Linked DNA regions of Homo sapiens: regions 1 and 3 are each linked to region 2. Evidence: fine-mapped expression QTL. A gene starts in region 2. Each other region holds a variant in brackets. All regions are shown on one strand. Distances are between the middles of the regions. Region 1 overlaps TRANK1 (tetratricopeptide repeat and ankyrin repeat containing 1). Region 2 holds the start of TRANK1 (tetratricopeptide repeat and ankyrin repeat containing 1). Region 3 overlaps TRANK1 (tetratricopeptide repeat and ankyrin repeat containing 1).

Region 1 (2,758 bases), 92 kb before region 2:
CCACAAGGATTACCTGAAGAAAAACAAAAGAACATCAAATTCTACAGAGAAAACCCCAGTAAGCCTCAGTCTATTTCTATGGGAGATAGGTAATGTTTTTAAAGAGAAATGGCCAGCATAAACATGGTCAGGCAGGCCAGGGGAAAGATTGAAACACTTGGTCACTCAGCCATCTCTGGAACTCACCCACTGTGGGACAGGGACTATTTTTAATGCTACTTTGTGGTATAATTTAGCTTCTCAAACTTTTTTCAATTGCAAACTGTCTTTTATTTCAAAACATAAAATCCCAAGCAGCTCACCTGGTGGGCTCCAAATTCAATGGGCTGAGTTTTCCTTTTATTCCCTCGTAGCAAAATTGCCAAGTCGCTTACACTACAAGACTCCAGAACAGTTGGCTTAGGACCATCAAAGAGGCCAGAATCCCTTGGAAGGCGATCAAAAGATTCTGGGAAATAGAACTGAAGTAAATCCACCACTCCAGATGCCAGATTGAGGATTCCTGGAATGAAACAGAAAACCCAAGTTGGATAATTAACAACATGGCTGAGTTTTTTGGTTATTTGGGGTGGGGGACATGTTTTTCCTGAGAAGCAGGTTTGGCCCCTACAGTATGTATAATTGCAAGCCCGTTTTCAGTTCCCATTTGATTACCTCTGCAGCCCTGAGCTCTCTGGGTGCAGGGGATGAGAAGGCAGAGATATGTTGCTGTGCTGAGAGAGTTTTGTGGGATCTCATTCCCAACCTATATTCATATTAGAGAAAATTACCTCACAAAGAAGAGTCAAGGCAAAAATGTAATATAAACAATGAGACCTCAGGAGGCTGAGGCAGGAGAATCGCTTGAACCCAGGAAGCGGAGGTTGCAGTAAGCCAAGATCACACCTCAGCACACTCCAGCATGGGTGACAGAGCGAGACTCCATCTCAATTAAAAAAAAAAAAAAAAAAAAAAAACAATGAGAGCTGTTAGAATGCTCTCATAAGGGGCTGGTATTGACTTTGGTAAGAAAACCAGAATTGCCTTGTCCTCTCCCATTGGTGCTTACAGAACCAATATTACCATGGTAAAAACAGTGCTGCATGTGAGCTAAGGACAGCAACCAAGGCCTCCATCACCCTTTTCCCCCAGGTTTATACCCAGTTGAGAGAGGATTACACTAAGAAAAAATGTCAGAGCAGGAGAGAGGATTTTCCAAAGAGATTTATTCCTGGGTCCCATTTCTTCTCTAATATCTGAAGTGACGTTAATAGTGACATTGGCTTAATGCCTATCATACAGCAGGCACCTTCAAAAAAGTCATCCCATTTA[A/T]TCCTCACAACAACAAATCCTCACAACAATGCAGTGAGACAGATGAGACAATTGCACTTTTACAAACAGGAACTCTGAGGTCTGAGAAGCTAATAGATATCTCCCAGTGATAGGATTTGAACATAGACCTTCCTGGGTGTCTCCACTACTCTTAGAAGCCAGGTGCCCTTTTCAAACACCAGATAGAATACAATGGTCTAGGTAGAACGTCATGAAATGGGCATATGTATCCCCATTGCTATTACCAAATAGTGAAGGGAAAATGTGACTATCCAATACTGTTGTTATTAAAAGTATATAATATAAAGCAATAAGCCTAAGTGGAAACTGCTGAATCTAAGCAAATAAGCTTCTACTGTGGTTCCCTTCCCATTAGGAGTTAGCAGGGGCCAAATATATATCTACATTAACAGGAGAATCAGAAAAGGGCACAAAAGTTGCAGTAGAATCCACTTAAATGGCCTTCTAGGGAACTAGACAAGTAATTTTTGATGTAACCATACTCAAAAAACAAAAGATGGTTCAACCATAGAAAGGAATAAAGTGCTGATACATACTATACATGGATAAACCTTAAAGACATTAAACTGAGTGAAAGAAACCAGACACAAAAGGCCATGTATTATATGATTACACTCATATGAAATGTCCACAATAGGCAGATCCGTAGAAACAGAAAGATGAGTTGTCACCGTGGAGTGGGAAGAAGGACACAATGAGTAGTAACTGCTATGATTATGGGTTTTGAGGGGTTTTTAATTTCTGAAAATGTTCTAGAATTAGATGATGGTGATAGTTACACAATTTGTGAATACATTAAAAAACACTAAACTGAACATTTCAAATGGGTGCCTTTTATGCTATGTGAACCTCAATGAATGCACTAGAACTCCACATTATCAACATGCAAAATTCTCAACAACAGGCTGGGCACGAGGGCTCACGCCTGTAATCCCAGCACTTTGGGAGCCTGAGGTGGGTGGATCACCTCAGGTCAGGAGTTCAAGACCAGCCTGACGAACATAGTGAAACCCCATCTCTACTAAAAATACAAAATTAGCTGGACATGGTGGCAGGCGCCTGTAGTCCCAGCTACTTGGGAGGCTGAGGCAGGAGAATTGCTTGAACCCAGGAGGTGGAGGTTGCAGTGAGCCGAGGTCACGCCACTGCACTCCGGCCTGAGCAACAGAGCAAGACTCTATCTGAAAAAAACAAAAAAAAAAGAAAGAAAGAAATCTCAACAACATAACATTAGGCAAAAATACCCAGTTACAGAAAGATATGTCCAGCATGATCCCATTACAGTTTTTAAACATGTAAAGCAATACTCCATATTGTTCACAGATATTTGTCGGCCAAAGGAGATAAATTTGTTAGTATCTATAAACCATAAAGGAAATATTCCAGCATTGGTACCCTGTTATTTAAACTTGTGTACCTTAGTTTC
Region 2 (2,758 bases):
GGATCCTGGAACCCAAAACGCTCAGCACGAGGGAGCAGGAGCGCATACCTACGCTGGGAACACAAGGCTTTAATCCCAGCTATTCCTTCCCGCATAAGGACTAACTGAGCCAGCAGCAACTGGGTTGGAGCAGATAGGGGAACTAGAGACCTCAGAGCCCCATTCTCTTTCTGCTTCTTAAATTTTTTTTTCTTTTATTTTCCAAATTGCACACTTCCATAAAAATTTTCCTAGGAAGCACCAAAGCTTTCAACTGCCCAGAAACACCCCGATCTGGGAGAAAAGGTGGCTTGAGCTGCACCTCAAAGATGGGCTCTATCTCAGCCGGGTTGCAAGTGCACAGGGCTCCCCGCGGGACGGAGACAGGGAGTTGGGAGGAAACGCAACGCGCCTCCCAGGCAACAGACTCCGAGCTCCGGTTCGGAAACGCTCCGAGGCAGAAGCAAGGGCTTCTAAGGGCTCCGCTTCCCAGCCTTGGGTCCCTACTACTACCTTCCCCCTAGACTCGGTGAGCCCAGGCTGATGGACCGTGCAGTCCAGTTTGAGCCAGCCCAGCAGCCCTCAATCGGGCGGGCAGGGAAGAAGGCCTCCTACTGCCGGGAAGAGGCCAGCGCGCTCCAAGTTCCCCGCAAATTCCGCCCTTCCCGCCTGGCACGGTTCCCTTGCACCGCTGTGCTCCGCTCCCAGGTTTCTGCCCGCCAAGAATGCTTGCCCCGGGGGCGCGCTCGCTGGTCAGGAACCTGTCGGCAGCCCCCGGGAACCCCTGAGGATGCGGAGGTGGGCCCGAGAGCTGCGGCTTCGATGCCGGGGTGGGAGCTAGGCAGGCCGCGCGCCGCCGCAGTCCTGTCGCAGCGCGTGCCCTGGTCCCTCCGGACCGAAAAGGCCGAAGCCGTCCCCCGCGACCGACCCCGCGCAACTGGCTCGGGTCTGCACCTAGATGGCTGTGGGCCCCACAGGGATGGCCGGGCGGGCCCGTTCGGCCGCTACCTCAGGGTCGCCAGTCCCCGCGCGCGGCCGCCTCCCGCCAGGAAGGGTGGCGGGCCCGGAAGGCCAGAGATGCCCCAGTGCTTCCCGCGCCGCTACGCACCTAGCTGCCCGCGGGTCCCACATGGCTGCGGCCGGAGGGTCCGCACCAGGACCGCCGCCGCCTGGGGAAGCGCTTCCCTGTGGGCAGGGCGCGGCGGGCAGTGCGGAAGCCCGAAAGCTACCGGAGCCCGGGGCAGGGGCGGCGCGATGCAGAGGCGGCGTTCGGGGGCCCCCAGCTGCCTGCGGCTCGGCTACCCAGCCGCGATCAGAGGGGGCGGGGGACGCAGGAACCCCGGCGTCCGGGCGGTGTGCAGCCGCAGACCTATTCCAAGTTTCCACGTAGTTGCGAGAGCCCAAAAACTGTCACGTGCACGTCGCTGCTGAGTGGGAGGAGGTGTTTGTCATCGCGTTCAAAAGGGGCGTTTCGGTGTCTCCCGTCATGCAAGCAAATGGTATGGCTCTCGGCCGCCTTTGAATAAACGAGTGCTTCGAACCCTTTACCAGGAGGGACTAGGCGCACAACCACCTCCGACACTCCTCGGGCATGCGAGAATTCGGCTTTCCTTAGTGGGGCCCATCAATGTTGTCCGGGAGGTAAAGAAAGTGATCGGCCAACGGCCTCAGCGTGGGTTTTCTCCTTCCCTCGTTCCTCCCTCCAACAAAGGACGTACGGAGAACAAGCCCCCTAGCTCCTACAGATGAGGAGCTCAGGAGTCGGGCGAATATCAAGTACTTACTGTGTGCTTGCCCCTCCACTCTGGGGAGGCTGGGGGTCCGGGAGTGAAGGGGGCAGCGAGACCGCGGGCTGCTCCACGCTCACCGTCGTGTCCATGGAGAGTAAGTGCGCACAGGCCTGAGCAGGCAACAAAATGAGGATCTTGCCTTGTCTTTCCACCTCCCCAGTGATGATCGACAGAGTAGTGGGTCGGAGAGGACCACCTCTGGCTGCTACCTCCCCAGCGGTTCTCGGCCTAGGGAGCCGGTTTGGTCTTCACAGCTTCTCTGGGCCTGGGAGTACTTTCCTACACACCAGAGAATCCACCCAATCAGAGAGCTAAGCCCGCCGCCCTCCCCTGGGGCAAGGTTCGGCCTACACTGCATCCCGGTGGTTCGCCCATCCTTCTGGGGGACCACCACACCAGGCTGCCTGGTGGCAGGGAGGACACCACCAGAGCTTTAGTGAGGGGGACCACACATTTCAGCGAAACAGAGAGGCTTTGGTAACACGTGGACACACCTAAGGCACACAGTATACTTCTCTCCACTGGTCATTCTGCGTTGTGAACTAGTCTCAGTCTAGCTAGTGGTCTCCTTGCTTCTAGAATCTCACAGAGATTTCTGTGCATTGATCTTCCCCAAACATCAGGATGAATCACGTACAGTTCAAAAGCCATCAGTGGCACTCCATTGTCTCCTAGAGATCAGGTTAGGTACCCGGGCATTTGAGATTCTTCTTCACAATCTTGCCCCACATTTCCAATCTTAGCTTCCTCATGCAAACTCTATACTGCAGTGCTTCCCAACCTTAGTTACACAATAGAATCACCTGGGGAGCTTAAAAACAAAAACAAGGCCGGGCGGGTGGCTCACACCCGTAATCCCAGCACTTTGGAAGCCTGAGGCAGGCGGATCACCTGAGGTCGGGAGTTTGAGACCAGCCAGACCAACATGGAGAAACCCCATCTCTACTAAAAATACAAAAAAAAAAAAAAAAACCCAAAAATATGCGTAT
Region 3 (2,758 bases), 86 kb before region 2:
TGAACTCCCCCAAAAAATCTGAAATCCATTAAAGAGCTCAGTGGTTCTCAACCAATGGTGATTTACTCCCCAAGGGACATTTGGCAATGTATAGAGACATTTTTTATTGTCACAGCTAGGGGAGTGTCACTGGCAGCTAGCAGGTGGAAGCCAGGGATGCTGCTAAATATCCTACAACGCACAGAACAGTGCCTTACAACAAAGAACTACCCAGCCCAAATGTCATGGTAGTTCCTGAAATGACCATACAAGATTCTAGCAAGATCCTTCATACGCAGACCCTTGAAAATGATATAAATAAATGGAAAGTATTTTTCAGCTACCAACAGCCAACTCTGGAACTTTAGAATCCTCCATCAACCCTCCCTGACCACTCACCATGGTGGTCACTTCTTCCCATTATGCTACAAGTGAGGGGCCAGGTGACATGGGCAGGCCTGGCCAAGAAATGGGCCTTTTTCAGATCACTGGTTTACACAAAAGGAAAGACCAGAAAACATAGCATCAGTTCTAATATCCAGCTTCCTCCTCAAGGAGACGGCTGCTTAAAAAACAAGGGCTTACCTTTAATCTCTAGAAAGATGTGGAGTGCTGCATGCAAAGGAGTATCACCTTCCGTGAGAGAAATAGCACGGGGGTCTGCGCCCTTGGTCAAGAGAAGGAAAGCCAACTCGAAGTCCTCATGTTTCAGGCACGTGACAACTGGCCTCTCCTGGCTCTCCTGAAGACCATCAGGCAAGGCTGGGAGAGGAGAGAAGGGAAGCGCAATGTGAGCAGGCACAGCCTGGCTCGCCTGACGAGAGAAGGAATGCTTCAGTTATTCAGTTGCAAGGGAAGAGCTAATGTTTACCTAACTTCCAAGATCCTCCTACCAGCACCCATTCTGGGAGGCAAAGGCTTCTGCCAGTAGCCACAAAGTGAAAGCCCAGCTCCTTCAAGCACCCTGTCTGGGGGCCTCACCCCCGCCTCCTCTCCAGCTCCCCACCACAGGAGCATAGTTCCCACCATTCCCACTGTCCTGGCATGAGGACAGGGCATGAGAACTGAAACCCTAACACCCACCTAACATCATACCTGACACAGTCAGTGTGAGGACACTTTCTACATCCCTTGCTTCTTTTTTTTTTTTTTAATACTTTAAGTTCTGGGATACATGTGCAGAACGTGCAGGTTTGTTACATAGGTATACACGTGTCATGGTGGTTTGCTGCACCCATCAACCTGTCACCTACATTAGGTATTTCTCCTAATGCTATCCCTCCGCTAACCCCCCACCTCCTGACAGGCCCTGGTGTGTGA[C/T]GTGCCCTCCCTTTGTCCATGTGTTTTCATTGTTCAACAGCCACTTATGAGTGAGAACATGCCACATCCCTTGCTTCTACTGAGCTCCTATTCTCAACTGCCATCTTCCCTGACATCTCTCCACCCGAAATCACCTTCTTTTTAGTTCAGTCCACACAGCTCCTCTGCATCAAAGTTCCCCAACCTCCACCAGAAGGCAGACCCACCCACTATAGATCTGCAGTCTCCTCCACACACTTCCAGCAGCTGCGCACTCACCTCTGTGGGCTTGGTTCCTAGCACCTGATCCTGAGATGTGCTCTATAAGTGCTTGCCGAATCAAGAAATAAAACAGGAATTCCATGACAGCTGTGGTTTCCAGGCAAAGAAAGTAACACTCCACTTAAGGAAGGAGTTTAAAAAAATAAATTATAGAAGCCACCCCACCTACCTCCTGAAAGCTGTGGATGGAGCCAACACCTAAAGGCTCTGCAAGGTGTGTGGCACTTTGAGGGCTAAGGATCAATGTGCTATTGATAACACACAATGTCTTGTGTGTTACTGTTATATCTTACATATTATGTGTTATTGATAACACACAATGTCTTGTGTGTCACTGTTATATCTTACATATTATGTGTTATTGATAACACATAATGTTTTTTCTCGTAAAAGACAATTCCTCATACAGCACGAAGCAAGCAGAGAACTACATAGCCAAGGTACTCTTCTAAAAGCCTGCACACATTAACTTATTTAATATCCAAAACAACCCTATAAAAGGGGGCCTATTTATTCCCATTTTACCAATGAGGAAATGAAGTCATAAATGGCATGTCCAATGCCACACAGTTAGTACTGGCATTAGTGGAGGTGTGAGGGACAGAGGTAGGAGGAGGTTGGTGTTTCTAAATCAGCTTGGAAATAAAAGCCAATTCAGCAAGATGTCTGCACACTCCAGACACACACCCAGCCACGCATGATAGTTCTCATTAAAGCAGCAGATGCTTCCACCCACCAATTACTTGACCGTTTCTTTAAAAACAAGCATCTTGAATCCCAATCTGTTGATCAGAAAAGAATGTCACAGGAGTAGATAAGGATCCACACAGTATATCCACTGCAAGTCAAAGTCTAGCCAGAGGTCAGGAGGAAATGACTGCTGTAGGCTAAACCAGAGCCAAGGACCCTTCACACACCTGATGTTTCCCATACAAAAGAGAACACCTGATGTTTCCCATACAAAAGAGAAAGGTAGTAACTGGAATTCACAAAAATGCAGAGATCCTCAAGGGCAACTCACTCACAGGGCAGTAACCTCCATCACTGTTTCAAAACAAGAATATACAGGGTAGGCAATGAGGGTGAACTTCATGGTGCCTCCAAAAGCAAGGGAAAGGCAGGCAGTGGCCTGGACTCCATCACGTGGAGAATGTGGACAAGTCTCCAACGCTTAGCATCCAGTCACTCTCACCTCCAC

Evidence for each region. PIP is the estimated chance that this variant, and not a neighbour inherited with it, causes the effect. A credible set is the group of variants that fine-mapping cannot tell apart.
Region 1: its variant is the best candidate, but not a certain one, in a credible set for the expression of TRANK1 in whole blood (INTERVAL, PIP 0.84).
Region 3: its variant is the best candidate, but not a certain one, in a credible set for the expression of TRANK1 in whole blood (INTERVAL, PIP 0.68).

Annotation. Positions count from the first base shown.
Region 1 is chr3:36,851,844-36,854,601 of GRCh38, forward strand. It overlaps TRANK1 (tetratricopeptide repeat and ankyrin repeat containing 1), which reads right to left. Exons shown (of 24, transcript NM_001329998.2): 14 at 303-502; 15 at 1-13. Among named protein-coding and RNA genes, the nearest start is that of LINC02033, 31 kb to the left of the region's middle. The variant A/T (reference allele first, on the strand shown) is at 1,312.
Region 2 is chr3:36,943,700-36,946,457 of GRCh38, forward strand. TRANK1 (tetratricopeptide repeat and ankyrin repeat containing 1) reads right to left here and starts at 1,355. Exons shown (of 24, transcript NM_001329998.2): 1 at 1,088-1,355. The coding sequence starts at 1,110. RefSeq lists a silencer at 1,003-1,222 and an enhancer at 1,453-1,522.
Region 3 is chr3:36,858,154-36,860,911 of GRCh38, forward strand. It overlaps TRANK1 (tetratricopeptide repeat and ankyrin repeat containing 1), which reads right to left. Exons shown (of 24, transcript NM_001329998.2): 11 at 2,753-2,758; 12 at 565-741. Among named protein-coding and RNA genes, the nearest start is that of LINC02033, 37 kb to the left of the region's middle. The variant C/T (reference allele first, on the strand shown) is at 1,300.